4 linked regions of the Homo sapiens genome follow. The protein of the gene in region 4 interacts with the protein of the main gene of each other region in a biochemical or structural test. Each region holds a gene or a part of one and is shown on either strand. Other genes may lie near its edges.

The links. Proteins that work in one complex are often made in the same cells at the same time.
Region 1: the proteins of GRID2IP (region 4) and SLC2A3 interact in a test that uses a peptide from one of them, tested with the Homo sapiens proteins (one large-scale study listed by IntAct).
Region 2: the proteins of GRID2IP (region 4) and PTPRZ1 interact in a test that uses a peptide from one of them, tested with the Homo sapiens proteins (one large-scale study listed by IntAct).
Region 3: the proteins of GRID2IP (region 4) and ABCA1 interact in a test that uses a peptide from one of them, tested with the Homo sapiens proteins (one large-scale study listed by IntAct).

What each region holds. Positions count from the first base shown.
Region 1 is NC_000012.12:7,919,188-7,922,687, forward strand, and holds the end of SLC2A3 (solute carrier family 2, facilitated glucose transporter member 3), read right to left. Parts: intron 2,445-3,500; coding exon 2,226-2,444; 3' UTR 43-2,225; downstream 1-42. UniProt on the Homo sapiens protein: Facilitative glucose transporter. Can also mediate the uptake of various other monosaccharides across the cell membrane. Mediates the uptake of glucose, 2-deoxyglucose, galactose, mannose, xylose and fucose, and probably also dehydroascorbate.
Region 2 is NC_000007.14:121,871,809-121,875,960, reverse strand, and holds the start of PTPRZ1 (receptor-type tyrosine-protein phosphatase zeta isoform 1 precursor), read right to left. Parts: upstream 2,801-4,152; 5' UTR 2,462-2,800; coding exon 2,404-2,461; intron 1-2,403. UniProt on the Homo sapiens protein: Protein tyrosine phosphatase that negatively regulates oligodendrocyte precursor proliferation in the embryonic spinal cord. Required for normal differentiation of the precursor cells into mature, fully myelinating oligodendrocytes.
Region 3 is NC_000009.12:104,921,656-104,925,155, forward strand, and holds part of ABCA1 (phospholipid-transporting ATPase ABCA1), read right to left. Parts: intron 888-3,500; exon of another isoform or gene 457-887; intron 1-456. UniProt on the Homo sapiens protein: Catalyzes the translocation of specific phospholipids from the cytoplasmic to the extracellular/lumenal leaflet of membrane coupled to the hydrolysis of ATP.
Region 4 is NC_000007.14:6,496,278-6,499,461, forward strand, and holds the end of GRID2IP (delphilin), read right to left. Parts: intron 1,952-3,184; coding exon 1,787-1,951; intron 1,569-1,786; coding exon 1,497-1,568; 3' UTR 501-1,496; downstream 1-500.

The sequences.
Region 1 (3,500 bases), on a different chromosome or scaffold from region 4:
TTGTGGTTACAGGAAGGACAAAAAGTAAATAAGCCCATAATGTCGTGTACATTCAGAATTTTTATTTTAAAACAAAGAACCAGAGTAACAATAGAAAATCCATATGGAAATATTCACAATCTTCTCAGTGAGAAATGGGACCCTGCCTTACTGCCAACCTACTGTTTGAGGAGCCAGAAGTTGACATGAAGTTGCAAGGTCACCTTTTCAAGCTAAAGCACACTTGATAGCTATGTGCATTTTTTTTTTTTTGAGACGGAGTCTCGCCCTGTGGCCCAGGCTAGAGTGCAATGATGCGATCTCCGCTCACTGCAACCCCTGCGTCCCGGGTTCACATGATTCTCCCGCCTCAGCTTCCCAAGTAGCTGGGATTACAGGCGCCCGCCACCACGCCCGGCTAATTTTTGCATTTTTAGTAGAGACAGGGTTTCACGATGTTGGCCAGACTGGTCTCGAACCCCTGACCGCCCGCCTAGGCCTCCCAAAGTGCTGGGATTACAGGCGTGAGCCACCGCATCCGGCCTCAGCTACGTGCATTTTTATTCAAAGGCTCCAGGAGCAGAGGGAACAGTGAGAACTAAGAACCAAAATACTGTCACTGACAAGGGTTTGGCTAAAGGGTCTGAGATGTGTAAGCACCAAGAAGGGAAAGGGAGACTGAGCAACATATGAAAAAGGGGCTGTAGGAACAAACACAGAGAAAATAAGTCAACAATAACGTACTTCCACCCAGAGCAAAGTGACAGTGCACATACATTCATCCTCTCAAGTGTGGGCTACACTGCACATTGACTCATACTGTCTAAACCTGGTTTATTGGAAAGATTCAAGTCCCCTGAGGGCATTCGGCATAGGACCACAGTGACATGGTAACAGACATACGCAAGCGTGCCGTGAGCCTAAAGCAACAACACACTTTAGATAATAATCGCTCAGAAAAAAATCCTCTCCCAGAGCTGAGGTTACAAATTCCAAGTTTGCTATAAACATTCTTTGGGGAATTCCTTTAAAGGTATGAGTTAAAATACAACAGAAAATCAACACCTAAAATCTCCTAAAGAACAAAGTGGAAAAATAATGAATCTCTACCAAGAACCAATTATTTTAGGTTTCTTATTTGGATGGCTCTCCCACGAGATAGGTGGCGGGATTACTTCAAAAGTAATGAGACTACTACAAGAAGGAGTTATTTCATCCAGTGAGGGGAACAGGCTTTCTAGAAATCACTTTCTCTTCCCTGGACTCCATCCAAAATTAGAACCCATCAACCATCATTAACTACAATGCCCATATTAGTTAATAATCCTAGATTTCAAGTACTACTACATGTAAACTATTATCTTAAAGAAAAAAGCTCCAAAGGAAATCAGTAGCTTTATTATATAGGTATATGACTTTTACGAGAAGTTAAAGAGTTTCCATCTGAAGGACAGAAATTGTTAAGAGGTAACGTACAGACCTCAGGCACCACATCATTTACCCTCCAATAATGAACAACATTTCTCCCTAAATTCTTATTGCACCTTAACCTCTCCAGCATCAAATCTTCTACTCTATAACCTCTCTTTAAACACCTCCCTCTAATCTCAATTTCCTTCTGTTTTTATTATTTGGCAAAATTACGCTTAAAAAAATAAATATTTCCATCATGGCATATATATACCTATGTAACAAACCTGCACATTCGGCACATGTATCCTGAAACTTAAAGTTAAAAAAAAAAAATTATGTAATTAAACCAGAGGATAAAATAAATAAAACTCAAGTTAATTTGCCACGTAGAGCTGTATGGAAGTGAGGAAGGTGCTCTTACATAAACACCCTCCGGCTTCCACACTCATATGTATCTGCTTCCTGGTAAGTCTGAGGTTGGGGGAACTGCACCTTACTTTTCCTCTCCTATATCCCCTAGTGCGGCAATATCAGAACCCAAGGGAGGAAAAGCTGGCAAAGTTGTCATGTGCCAAGCGGCCAATCCCTCCTGAAATGAAGGTAGGTTCACTCGGTCTCTCCTAAGCAGAAGAGGATGTCCAGGAAATAAAATTTAAAAAGCCATTGAAGATCCAACAAACCGCAGCCTTGGGGTGCTCATGGAGTGCGTGGGATGAGAAAGGAATTAAGTAGCAGCATTCAGAAGCGTCCTGGGTTCATCCTGATGAGGTCTCTCCCTTGTTGAGGGAGAGGTGGCTTTCCCATGCCGGGAGGGAGGTGGAAGGAGGCACGACTTAGACATTGGTGGTGGTCTCCTTAGCAGGCTCGATGCTGTTCATCTCCATGACGCCGTCCTTTCCAGATCTATCTGCACCGTGTGCCTGCCCTTCAAAGGCCCGTGTGATATCCTCAAAAGTCCTGCCACGGGTCTCAGGGACTTTGAAGAAGGTAAAAGCCAAGAAGGTAATGAGGAAGCCGGTGAAGATAATAAAAACGTAGGCTCCTAAATAGTGCTAGAGAAAGGACAGAAAAAAGGAAGGTTGATATAAAAATCTGGTCATTGACAAAGTCAATTTCCTTCACATTCATATTTCCAATAGGCTTCAAGCTATAACCCTTCCATATTTAATGAAAACAGGTTTCTTCAGATTCGCTTATGATTCCATTGCTAACTTACTGTAGTTCTCTCTAGTTTTCTTTCTGTCATTCCATTTCATTACAGTTAGATGCTTCCAAATGTCTACTGAGTATTTTTGGACTTTTGAGTATTATTTTTAAAATCTGTGTTTCTGGGCCGAGTGCGGTGGCTCACGCCCATAATCCCAGCACTTTGGGAGGTCAAGGTGGGAGGATCACTGGAACCCAGCAGTTTGAGACTAACCTGGGCAACTCCATCTCTATTTATGAATTTTTTTTTTTTTGAGACGGAATCTCGCTCTGTCACCCAGGCTGGAGAGCAGAAGGTTGATCACAGCTCACCATGAACACCTCCTGGGTTTAAGTGATTCTCTTGCCTCAGTCTTCTGAGTAGCTAGGACTACAGGTGTGTGCTACCGCAATGGTGTGATCTCGCTCACTGGGATTACAGTCATGAGCCACGACACCCGGCCTAATTTTTGTATTTATTGTAGAAACAGGGTTTCACCATGATAGTCAGGTTGGTCCCCAACTCCTGACCTCAAGTTATCCACCCGCCTAGGCCTCTCAAAGTGCTGGAATTACAGGCTTGAGCCACTGTGTCTGGCCGCAAATTAAACTTTATGAATTATTTATTTCTGCAATTTTCCATTTAATATTTTTAGACTACAGGTAACTGAAACTGAAGAAGAGGAGGGACTGCTGTATTTTTTTATTTATTTAGGGATGGAGTCTTGCTTCCATCGAGCAGGCTAGAGTGCAGTAACGCGATCTCAGCTCGCTGCAACCTCCACCTCCCAGGTTTAAGCGATTCTCCTTCCTCGATCTCCCAAGTAGCTGGAATTACAGGCATGCACCACCATGCCCAGCTAATTTTTGAATTTCACCATGTTGGCCAGGCTGGTCTTGAACTCCTGACCTCAGGTGATCCA
Region 2 (4,152 bases), about 120 Mb from region 4:
TTTTAGTCAGTTGACAGACCCTTACTGAGCACTTAATACATATGTCAGGCTACCTCATTGGCTCTAAGAACACTGAAGATGAGGGGTAAACGCATCCACAAACACTGAAGTAGGTGCTGAGTGAAAAATAATTGAAATGGAGCCTAACTTTTTCATTTGAAGATAATGTGCCTCACTTTTTCAAAACATGCTGCCCCAAGATCAAGATATTTATGTTACTTGATGTTGCCAATGCCTCCAGGTCAGCCTGTTGGCAACTGTGTAAAAGGCCAACTTTGTTAAAATGGTGAGGAATACAAAAGTAGTCACCTTCCAGTCTCAACAAAACTCACTTGGAGTTCCAATGCAAGCTTACATTCAGTAGCATTACATAAGCTTGTGATAGTCTTTAAAAGTTAATTAAATTCTTTACACTTAAATTTTACATCACCAAAGACTTAAAGAAAATGTCCAACAAACTGAAAACTATACAACCAAAAATAGGCTACAAATAATGCTTTACAGAGAAAAACCTTTGCAAATGTGATATATTTAGTATATTGGCATAATGGAATATTACTCAGCCACAAAAAGGAATGAAGTACTTATACATACTATAACATGGATGAAACTGAAAACATTATGCCAAGTGAACAAAGACAGACAGAAAAGGCCACAAGTTGCATGATTCTATTTATATGAAATGTCCAGGATAGGCAAATTTATAGAGACAGAAAGTAGATTAGTGGTTGCTAGGAGCTGGGGTCATGGAGAATGGGGAATGGCTGCTAAGGAACATGGGGTTTCTTTTTGGGGTCATTAAAACATTCTGGAATTAGTGGTGATGGCTGCACAACTTCACGAATATATTAAAAACCACTGGACCATTTTAAAAAGATGAATTGTATAATGTGTGAATTTTATCTTTTTTTTTTTTTCAAAGAGATCCGCAACATGCTCTGGGCATGTGGTTTTGAAGACATACAAAGCAATACTCTCTGGTTTATTTCCTTGCTACTGTGATATTTACTTACATAATTTAATTACTAAGAGGACCTGCCTTCTTTGTTAAAATAGATCTACAATAGAAATGTGAATTCAACAGATGTTTGATGACCACGTACTTTTTAAAGCTGTCTTCCCCTCTCCAGAACTGACTATAAGGTTTTAGAATCAATGGAGACCAGAGATTCCCTTGCATGTCTTATGTGTCAACTATGCATCACACCACCCCAAGCACTTTCATAAAGCCTTTGAAATTTAAATTATGTCCGTGTGTGGGGGTCTATGGGCAATTATCACCGTATTTGCAATGTAATTTTCATTTATTAGAACTTAAAAATAGTTTCTGTTTGTAAAGGTTACTGTGCCAAGAGCAGCACCATCTATTGGATGAAAATGTACGCTTAATATCTACTCTACTATGAACCATCTAAAATTGAAAAATTGGGAGCCTCTGAAAAGAATTAAATATGTGTACTCACAAAGCGAAGTACAACACTTTGTAACTTTCAGGTTAATGCGTAAACCCATTATATTCTATCGCGATGGAAAATCATGAAGGAAAAAAAGCATTTCTTTAATAAAACGCAAAAGTCCAATCTTGCACTTCTCGAAAATGACTGGAAAACTTGAGTCTGCATCGCAGGTAAAGGGAATGCTTAAACTGGCTATTGCTGAATGCAATTTCAGTTTTAAATGTAACCTGGAGGGTGCAGATGAAAAATGAAATCTGTGAATAAGTATATCAACCTGCAGCTCTCCTCTGACTTTGGCAGCACTGACCAAACCTAGAGATTTAGATGGAACTTTTTTTTTTGTAAGTAATTGCGCAGACTTGAATATGACTAAATTGAAAGTAATAAAAAAAACCCTGAAAAGTCAGGTTGGTGCTTGTGCCTGTTACTACCTTTCAGGTGTGTGTGTGTGTGTGTGTGTGTGTCTGCAATTCACACCAGACACGTGTACTTTCCATTTAAGCCCATCATACCTATAGCATAAAAATGAACAGCAAAAAAGACAGTACAGTACACAGCCCCGCACCACAGCTGTATTTCTGGTCATTTATCTTCCTATGTATATCTAAAAGGCGATTTCTACACTTTGCAAAAGAGGAGAGAAGAACGGTGGCGGCAGGGATCCGAGTAGCCCTCCGTCTCCAGTAGCTCCGTCTCCTGGGGCCCGGGGCACGAATGCCCGCGGGCCGATGGAAGGGGCGAGGGCGCGGGGCGGGGAGGGGGCGCGCAAATCCCACGCAGCTGCCTGCACCGCGCGGCCGCCCGCTCCGTGGGAGCCCAGTTGGCTGTCCCTTTTTCCTCCTGGCTAGATGGCGGCGGCGGCGGCAAGTCGCGGACACGCTGAAATGCTCCCACCCTCATCCCACCGATCCCGGAGCTGAAACCCCACCGAGCTCTTCTCACTCACCCAGGCGGCAAACACAGAGGAGCTGAATGCAAGCGAGGAAACGCTTTAGGATTCGCATTTCCAGACGGTCTGCGGCCCCTCGCCGTGCGGCTCCTCTGCTTCTCAGAGTGGAGAGGGAGGGGGAGCGAAGGAAATGTTTTTTTTGTTTGTTTGTTTTAATCCTCCAGTGTATAGATCGAAGTGAGATCGTGCGTGCGTATGTGTGTTTGTGTGTGTGTGTGTGTGTGTGAGAGAGAGAGAGACAGAGACAGAGACAGAGAGAGACAGTCAGAGACAGCGAGAGAGGAATAATCTGGAGAAAGCCGCACGGTGGTGGGGCCCGGGGCCGCTAGCCGAGGCGCATGTCCTCCGGCGTGCGGGACTTTGCCTCTTTCGCCGGCTGCGGCGGCCGCGGTCTGAGCGCTCCGAGAGCAGCGAAGCCTCAGTGCCGGGTGCGCGCTCCAGCCCGGCTGTGCGCGCCGCGGCTCCTGGAGGGGGCGGGGGCGCAGGACCGCTCCGCTGGGAGCGTGCCTCGGACCCGGGGTCGCGCGGGGGGCGGAGGGGCGCGGCTGCCGCTCTGGGTCCGGATCCCAGGGTAGCAATTCACACACCGACAATCCTCCCTCTGTCCGCTGCCAGTGGTTTCGCTGCCCTGGAGTTAGAGGGATCCGCTGGGGTTTCCAGTGTTCGCAGAACATTGGAACTCCTTCATCACTTCGGAAGGGAAGGGAAGGGAAGGCCGGACACCCATTGTCCCGCACAGCCAGAGGTTGACCTTTGAGTTTCACCTCTAAGAGTTTTTTTCATTTTATTGTTTTCTGCAGATGCTTAAGTGGGTCCAATCAGAATGCGGTGGGGGCGCCTGGGTACATTGTTTCCCTCCCTTTTTTCTTTCCATTTTCCTAATAAAGCAGTAGACCCCATTGCCTTTGGGAGAGTTGACTCCAAAAAATCTCCAGCCCTGATTGTGACCAGTCTGACCCTGCCCTTTCCCTAGACCCCAACGAAACTGCCGTGCTGGGCACAGCTGTCTGGGGGGACTTTCAACACGGCGGTGGTCCTGCCAGACCGAACCACACAAGTGCCTCCTCCCACAGGGTCGAACGGGAAGATTTTTTATTGCTTGATTGAAGGGTATGCAAAAAATGTATAATGCATACCTTCTGCTGCCTTAGAGCTGGAAATGTCACCCTCATGTGCTCTTTTCTTTGGTGGTGTTCAGAATTAGACTGTGAGCGCCTTGATGGCAGGGAGTTTACCTTTATTACTATAACCCCAGATCCTAGCAAAATGGCCTTAAAAAAAATCAATAGGTGTTCCCTGAATATTTGTTGAATTAATTTGAAGCCAAAAGGAAATAATGAGAAGGTAATTGGTGGTAGTCTCTACACTGAAAATTTATGAGATTTTCATTTATATGATATCCTTTAACTATTAGTACATGTTTTTCGTATATGAGACCCACTTTAGAGCCTTTTAGGAGTCCCATCTAAGGCACAGAAAGCCAAGTTGTGGAATTATCCCATGTATTCTTAGTAACAATTTGAAGTAGGTATCTGTACAGTGTATACTCTTGTGTCCTGTTCTTGTCTCAAAAATAGTATTCTAGCTTTAAAAATTTTAAAGAAAACTTCCTGCACATAAAATTGGGTTCTGAATGTATTTCAAGTGTTACTACGAGTTCTTGCTAATATCCCAGCCTGTGAACATTTGGCTAAATGTGCAAGCTAATGGCAGTTTGCTGTTGCTTCAGGAATAGATTATAGTCAT
Region 3 (3,500 bases), on a different chromosome or scaffold from region 4:
TGCTTTTCTGTGATTACCCTGTTATCTTAAGTAGTCTTTTAGAAGACAGGAAGCAAACATGAGCTTCCCATTCTCCTTGTTGGACTTATTCAAGTCAGCATTTATTAAATTTTTTCCATATTAAGTGGGATGAATTAAGGCCAGGGGAGAATGAATCAAAGACCTTCCTCTAGAGAAGCATACACTCAAGAGGAAGACAAATAAATGTTAACTGTAATTAAAAAACAGAATTAAATACATGATACAAAGAGTGCTGTAATCCAAGTCTAATGGAAGTAAAGAGAAGGGGATCTTACTTTCAACTTAGTGATGGGAAGGAGTGGATCCAGAAGAGCTTCATGAGGAGGGAAGCATTTAAATCGGGTCTTAAAGGAGGTTTGCAAAAGCTAAAGGGTTTTGTACCAACTTTGTTTTCAACATGGGAAAGACAGGATTTCAAACTTTATTTTGTTTTAGGAACCAAATCCAGTGCTCCTCCATTGTTGGAATAAATGCTCTTTGCCTGAATGCTATTTGTGGTCTTCGTAGAATGGAGAGTAACTGAAGGCCCCACCGGAAATCAATTTTATGTAAGCTTTTCATTCTCTGGCCTCAAGTATTTCTAAAATGTACCTTTCTATGCAGGCTACTTATTCAGGCAACTATTTTCAGGTGAAGATACTCAAATGAAAATAGAGAATCCCTTTTGGCCTTTTGCTAATATTTCATTTGTCAAAACTTTGATAGTCTGACAAAGTCTTTACCATGAGATTGGTAAACTCACGGAAGCCAAACTGTCTGGGATGCGACTTCAGCTCCACTACTTACGAACTCCATAATAATGTACCTAGCCTGCCTATACCTCAGTTTCCCATCTATAAAGACAATAAAAGCACCTATTTCACTCATGAGAATGAACTGAGTTATTACACGGAAAACTTAAAAACATATCCAACATACCATAAATCAACAGTAAATGTAACTATTTTTACCAAGAGGTGTCTTCAAAGAGTTTATTTCTAATTCATTACACCAATTAATAAGAAAGGCACTTTCTCATCCTATTTCACTTTTACAAGGCAGACATTTTTTTTCAAGACGGAGTCTCACTCTGTCGCCCAGGTTGGAGTAAAGTGGCACGATCTCGACTCAGTGCAACCTCCGCCTCCCAGGTTCAAGCAATTCTTCTACTTCAGCCTCCCAATCCCAGTAGCTGGGATTACAAGCACCCACCACCACGCCCAGCTAATTTTTGTATTGTTAGTAGAGACGGGGTTTCACCATATTTGCCAGGCTGGTCTTGAACTCCTGACCTCAAGTGATCCTCCTGCTTTGGCCTCCCAAAGTGCTGGGAATACAACAATGAGCCAGTGCACCCAGCCAACAAGGCAGACTTTGAAACTGTGTTTATCTTCCAAAAATACGTATATCTTAAGAAAAAACTAAATTTGATTTCTAAACAGTAACAGCAGTAACAGAGAAATAGCTTATTTCAAAAGGTCCACAACTTCATCAAGGACAGGACAAGCAAGAATCATATTGTATTATAACAAATTTTTACAATTCACCAAAGTTAGGTTTTACAACTAAACTAACAGTTCACTTCTCTTTTTCCTTTGTTTCTTAGGCCCTTACAGCCTAATACTCTATCATTCCATTTTCTATAGATCACATAGGAAAACATTTTGAGATCACACAGCTATTCGCAAACATCTGACTGAAGCAATAGTATAGTTTTCATTATGAACCAAGTAAAAAATTGAGTTGAGTAAATTTTATTCTATTCTTTCCAGGATGTTGCAATCCCTACGCAACCAAGGTTTCAAGTTAAAGAGAATTTGGCTGACCCACTCACAGCAACAAGGAAAATATGATACAGGCTGTAGATTCTGATAAGGATTATAGCAGATGAATGTAGAGAATGTGGTGATCATCCTTGAAAAGCTCCCTGGTTGCAGCAGCTGAAATGTTAGTGCTGGAGTTAAAGAACTCTGGCTGGGTTCAAGTCTTAGCTCTGCCTCTTGCAAGGTATATAGCCAGAGAAAAATTAGCTTCTCATTTACTTAATCTTGTAAACTAGGGACAATAAATGGTTTTGTTGTGAAAATTCAATTAGCATTTGATGACCTGCACAGTGGCTTATGCCTGTAATCCCAGCACTTTGGGAGGCTGATGTGGGAGGATCACTTGAGCCCAGGAGTTCAAGACCAGTCTGAGCAAGATAGTGAGACCTTGTCTTTACAAAAAATTGTAAAAATTTAGCCAGGAGCAGTGGTGCGTGCCTGTGGCCCCAGCTCCTTAAGAGGCTGATGTATGAGGATCACGTGAGCGCAGGAGGCTGAGGTTGCAGTGAGCCTTGTCTGTGCAGCTGCACTCCACCCTGTGCAACAGAGCAAGACCCTATCTCAAAATAAATACAATGAATAAACACGTGAAAAACATTTCAAACAGTACTTGCCACACAGTGCTATATAAGTGTCTATTCAACACTGCAATAACTTTGGCCATTCATGGTTGTATCCACATGCAGATACGAAGATGGTTGCATTTTTTGGAGTAGGCCTTCTCTCAGCATAAACAAAACAAGTGTTCAGAATGATCTTTTAACATTTGATGCTAGAGTAAATGACCATAACAACTACTATAATGGTATTATTTATTTAATATCTGGATACTTAAAAAAATGTATTTGAGGCCAGGTGTGGTGGCTCATGCCTGTAATCCCAGCACTTTGGGAGGCTGAGGCTGGCAGATCACTTGAGGTCAGGAGCTTGAGACCAGCCTGGCCAACATGGTGAAACCCTGTCCCTACTAAAAACACAAAAACTAGCCGGGTGTGGTGGCACGCACCTGTAATCCCAGCTACTCAGGAGGTTGAGGCAGGAGAATCACCTGAACCTGAGAGGCGGAAGTTGCAGTGAGCCAAGATCATTCTACTGCGCTCCAGCCTAGGCAAAAGAGCAAGACTCCATCTCAGAAAAAAAAAAAAAAGAAAAAGTATTTGGTTTTAAAAGTATTTTAGAAATGCAAAAACCACATGCATTTTGATATTTTCTAGACATCTAGATATCTTCATAATTAGAAGAGTCTATCTAAGGTAATGTTCACTTATTCTAGCAGCTAAAAATGAAAACAGTGAAGACCTTAATTTGTAGCCACTACATATATAGCTTAAGTATCCCGGCTTACGGGAGAGAAGATCCCTTTAAAAAAAAAATTTAAATGGAAAAATATCCCAACCAACTCCTCTCCAAAAAGGTAAGTACTACAGAAGATAATAAAAAGCTAAGTCACTGAACTTCTTCAGTTTCATTCATTTTTTTATGTTTACAATGGGACTTCCTTGAGCAGAAGGAACCAATCCTTGAAAACAATCAATTCCTGATCACTCTTTTCCAATCCTGCACTAATGCACTGTCTCACACAAACCGAAAATATGTTCTAAGTCAAAATGTGTCCAGGGGTCGGGCGCGGTGCCTCACGCCTGTAATCCCAGCACTTTGGGAGGCCGAGGCGGGTGG
Region 4 (3,184 bases):
TAATTTTGTGTATTTTTAGTAGAGATATGGCTTCACTATGTTGGCCAGGCTGGTCTTGAACTTCTGGCCTCAGGTGATCCACCTGCCTCAGCCTCCCGAAGTGTTGGAATTACAGGCGTGAGCCCCCACGCCCTGCCTGCAGAGGTTTTAACTGACCTCCTGACATGTTTCCCAGAGACACAGGCACTGGGAACTTTTGGAAACAATTCTGCTTGAGCTGCTAGGGTGAAATGTACCCCACTAGCCACATCCCCCTTGCAGTATATATTTTGGTTTTGATGTTTTTGTATGGTGCTTGTGTGCAAGGAACAAAAAAACAAAGGTGGCTTCCAAGAGGGGCCTAGGGGAGACTGGGAAGAACTGAACAGGTTCCCAGTACTGCCCAGGTGCAATGTAAGCCATTTGATTGCAGTGGGAGAAAAAGAATCCATGAGACAGGATTAAAGCCCATTTCAGACTTTTCCAAAAAAAAAAAAAAAAAAAAGTGCAACGAGGGAAGCTGTCTGATCCAAGGATCTGTCAATCAGAGAATTTTAAAAAAGGTGAAACAGTTCACACACCCTCCCTCCCTGCCCACCACGCCACCTGCTCCTGCTCCTGGTATCCAGGTAACTCCTGCTATATGCCTAGGCACATGTAAAATGACCATTTGGGTCCCAAACACATCCCAGATTGTGTCATCTGCCCCCACACCTGCCCCGGTCTCATGACTTGCTCCAGGGAACATCACCATCCGTCCAGGTGAGAAGTCTGGCAGTTGGCCACCAGATCCTGCTCACCTCCTGCCTCAACACCTCCCCATTCTGTCTGCTCTACCTTGACCACACCTATTCCACTCCCAGGCTCCCCACTTCCAATTGGGCCACCTCTACACAGGTTTGGGTTTGTCCACTGCATGAAACCTCAATTCCGCAGTCTGACATAGGGGGTCTTCCTTCTCCAGTCCTTCCTTCCCTGCGTCTCTCCCAGGCTTCTCTCTTCCTGTGTCCCTGAAGCCAGCTTCCAAGGCCCAGGCTGGGCGTGCACATCCCCAGGGCCCCTCTACATCCGGCTTTCTGCCCTCTCGCGTCTCGCGCCTGCCTGCAGGGTCGTGCTCAAGGGTGTCGGCCCCCTCACAGGGACCCACTAGGAGCAGGATCAGAAAAAAGGTCCACATGTCCCAGGAATGTGGCCACTTTGTAATCCACCCTCCAGGCCCCCCTGACAGCCTGGGAGCGAAGTGGGAAGTGGGCCCAAGAAGCCGACAGAGCACGGTCCTCCATGTGCAGGCACACTCAGCACCTGCTCCTACAGCATCTGGCTCTGGGCCTGGGGGTAGGAACAAGGGCTGGCAGAGGAGGGCCCGACCACAGCTCGGCGGCTGAGGTAGCTGCAGGAGAGGCTGGCGGTGTGCTCAGAGCCCGGGGCACAGTGGCCCCGGACCTCGGCAGTGTCTGGGCTGCCCTCTCGGCCTCCATCTCCCTGCTCAGGCCGCAGAGGACGCGGTGTGGCCACTGTCACCAGGCCAGGGGTGAAACCATCCCGGAGCTGCGCAGGCCCTCCCCGGCCTGCAGGTCACTCAGCGCTCGCTGGGGAGGGGGAACACAGAGGTAGGGTGGTCAGTGGTCCCAGGAACCTGTGACGCCTTCCCTGTCTCTTCCCACACTAGACAGCCCATCAGGGGGTTAGGGGGACATGTCGCTCACTGGAGCCCCTTTCCCAGCCCTGGCTTCATGGAGGATCCCTTCATTTGGCCTCTGGCCCCCACCTCTCCAAAAGGGCCCCTCAGGGCTCCAGCGAGGCTCACCTCGAATTTGCTCATGAACTCTGCAAAGATGCCGAAGAAAGCCTCAGAGGTGGTGGCCTTGGAATCCTCCCCAAAGAAGGCCAGCGCCTTGCCCAGCTCCTCCATGGCCTCGCGCTGCAGCCCGTCGAGCGCCCGAAGTGCTGGCTGGGCCGTCTCCAGGAAGGACTGACAGGCCTCAGTTAAGGAAACAGCCAGCCCGCTTGTGCCCCCAGGGTCTCAGGTGGTGGCCCGACAGACAGGTCCCTAGCAGCCCTATTCCCGGTTGGCCTGAGTCCTTCCAAGGGCCAGGCCCTGTGTCCAACAGGGAACCAGGCCCTGTTCAGGGACTCTAGTCCCACTGGCCACTGAACTCATCCTGGAACTGGCCACAGCCAGTGCAGCCTCAGGCCATTCACCCCTGTTCTCTCTGCAGGGCCAGGCCCTGGGTCTCTGATCAGAGGCTTCCACTGCCACCTTCTTCCCCAACCACTCATTTACAGTAGGCCCCTCTGTCACTCTCTAGGCCTTACTTTTTTTTTTTTTTTTTTTTTTTTTGAGACAGGGTCTTATTCTGTCGCTCAGCCTGGAGTGCAGTGGTGTGATCACAGCTCACAGATCATTCCAGCCTCTACCTCCCAGGCTCAAGTGATCCTCCCACCTCAGCCTCCCGAGCAGCTGGGACCAGAGGTTTACACCACCATACCCAGCTAATTTTTTGATTTTTAAAATAGAGATGGGGTGTATGTTGCCTAGGGTGGTCTCAAACTCCTGGGCTCAAGTGATCCTCCCACTTTGGCCTCCCAAAGTGCTGGGATTACAGGTGTGAGCCACTGCACCTGGCCTTAGGCCTTACTCTGTTTTCTAGAGCATTTGTCATGATCTGAAATTGTTCATAAGTTCATTTCCTACTGCCTAAGTGAAAGCTCGCTCCCTCCTTGCACCTCCAGGGCTTAGAATAGCATCTGATACATGGTCAGTCTTGCAAAAAGATTCAGTGGCTGAATCGCTATCATTTTTTCAGCACTTAAAATGGTGCCGAGCTTTGTTCCAAGCTTGTTGAATCATCGTTTAACACCTCTATGAGGTAGATTATCTCTATTTTACATGTGAACAAATTAAAGCACACAGGACTTTAGCAACTAGCCCAAGATCACACAGCAAGCACTGTGGTGCCTGAGCCACGGTTGAACCCACCAGGGTCACATCAATTAATGACCACTGTGGTAGAGGTTCTCATGACCCCTCTTTTTCCTGATGAGAAAACTGGGCTCACAGAGGGTAACTGACTTGCCCATAGTCCCACAGCAGGTAAGGAAATGAGCCAGGATTTGGGCCTATGCCTGTCTGATGTGCCAGGTCAATTTCCTTTGCAGAGGCTGCCTTTAATTAATTAATTAATTAATTTTGAGACAGAGTCTC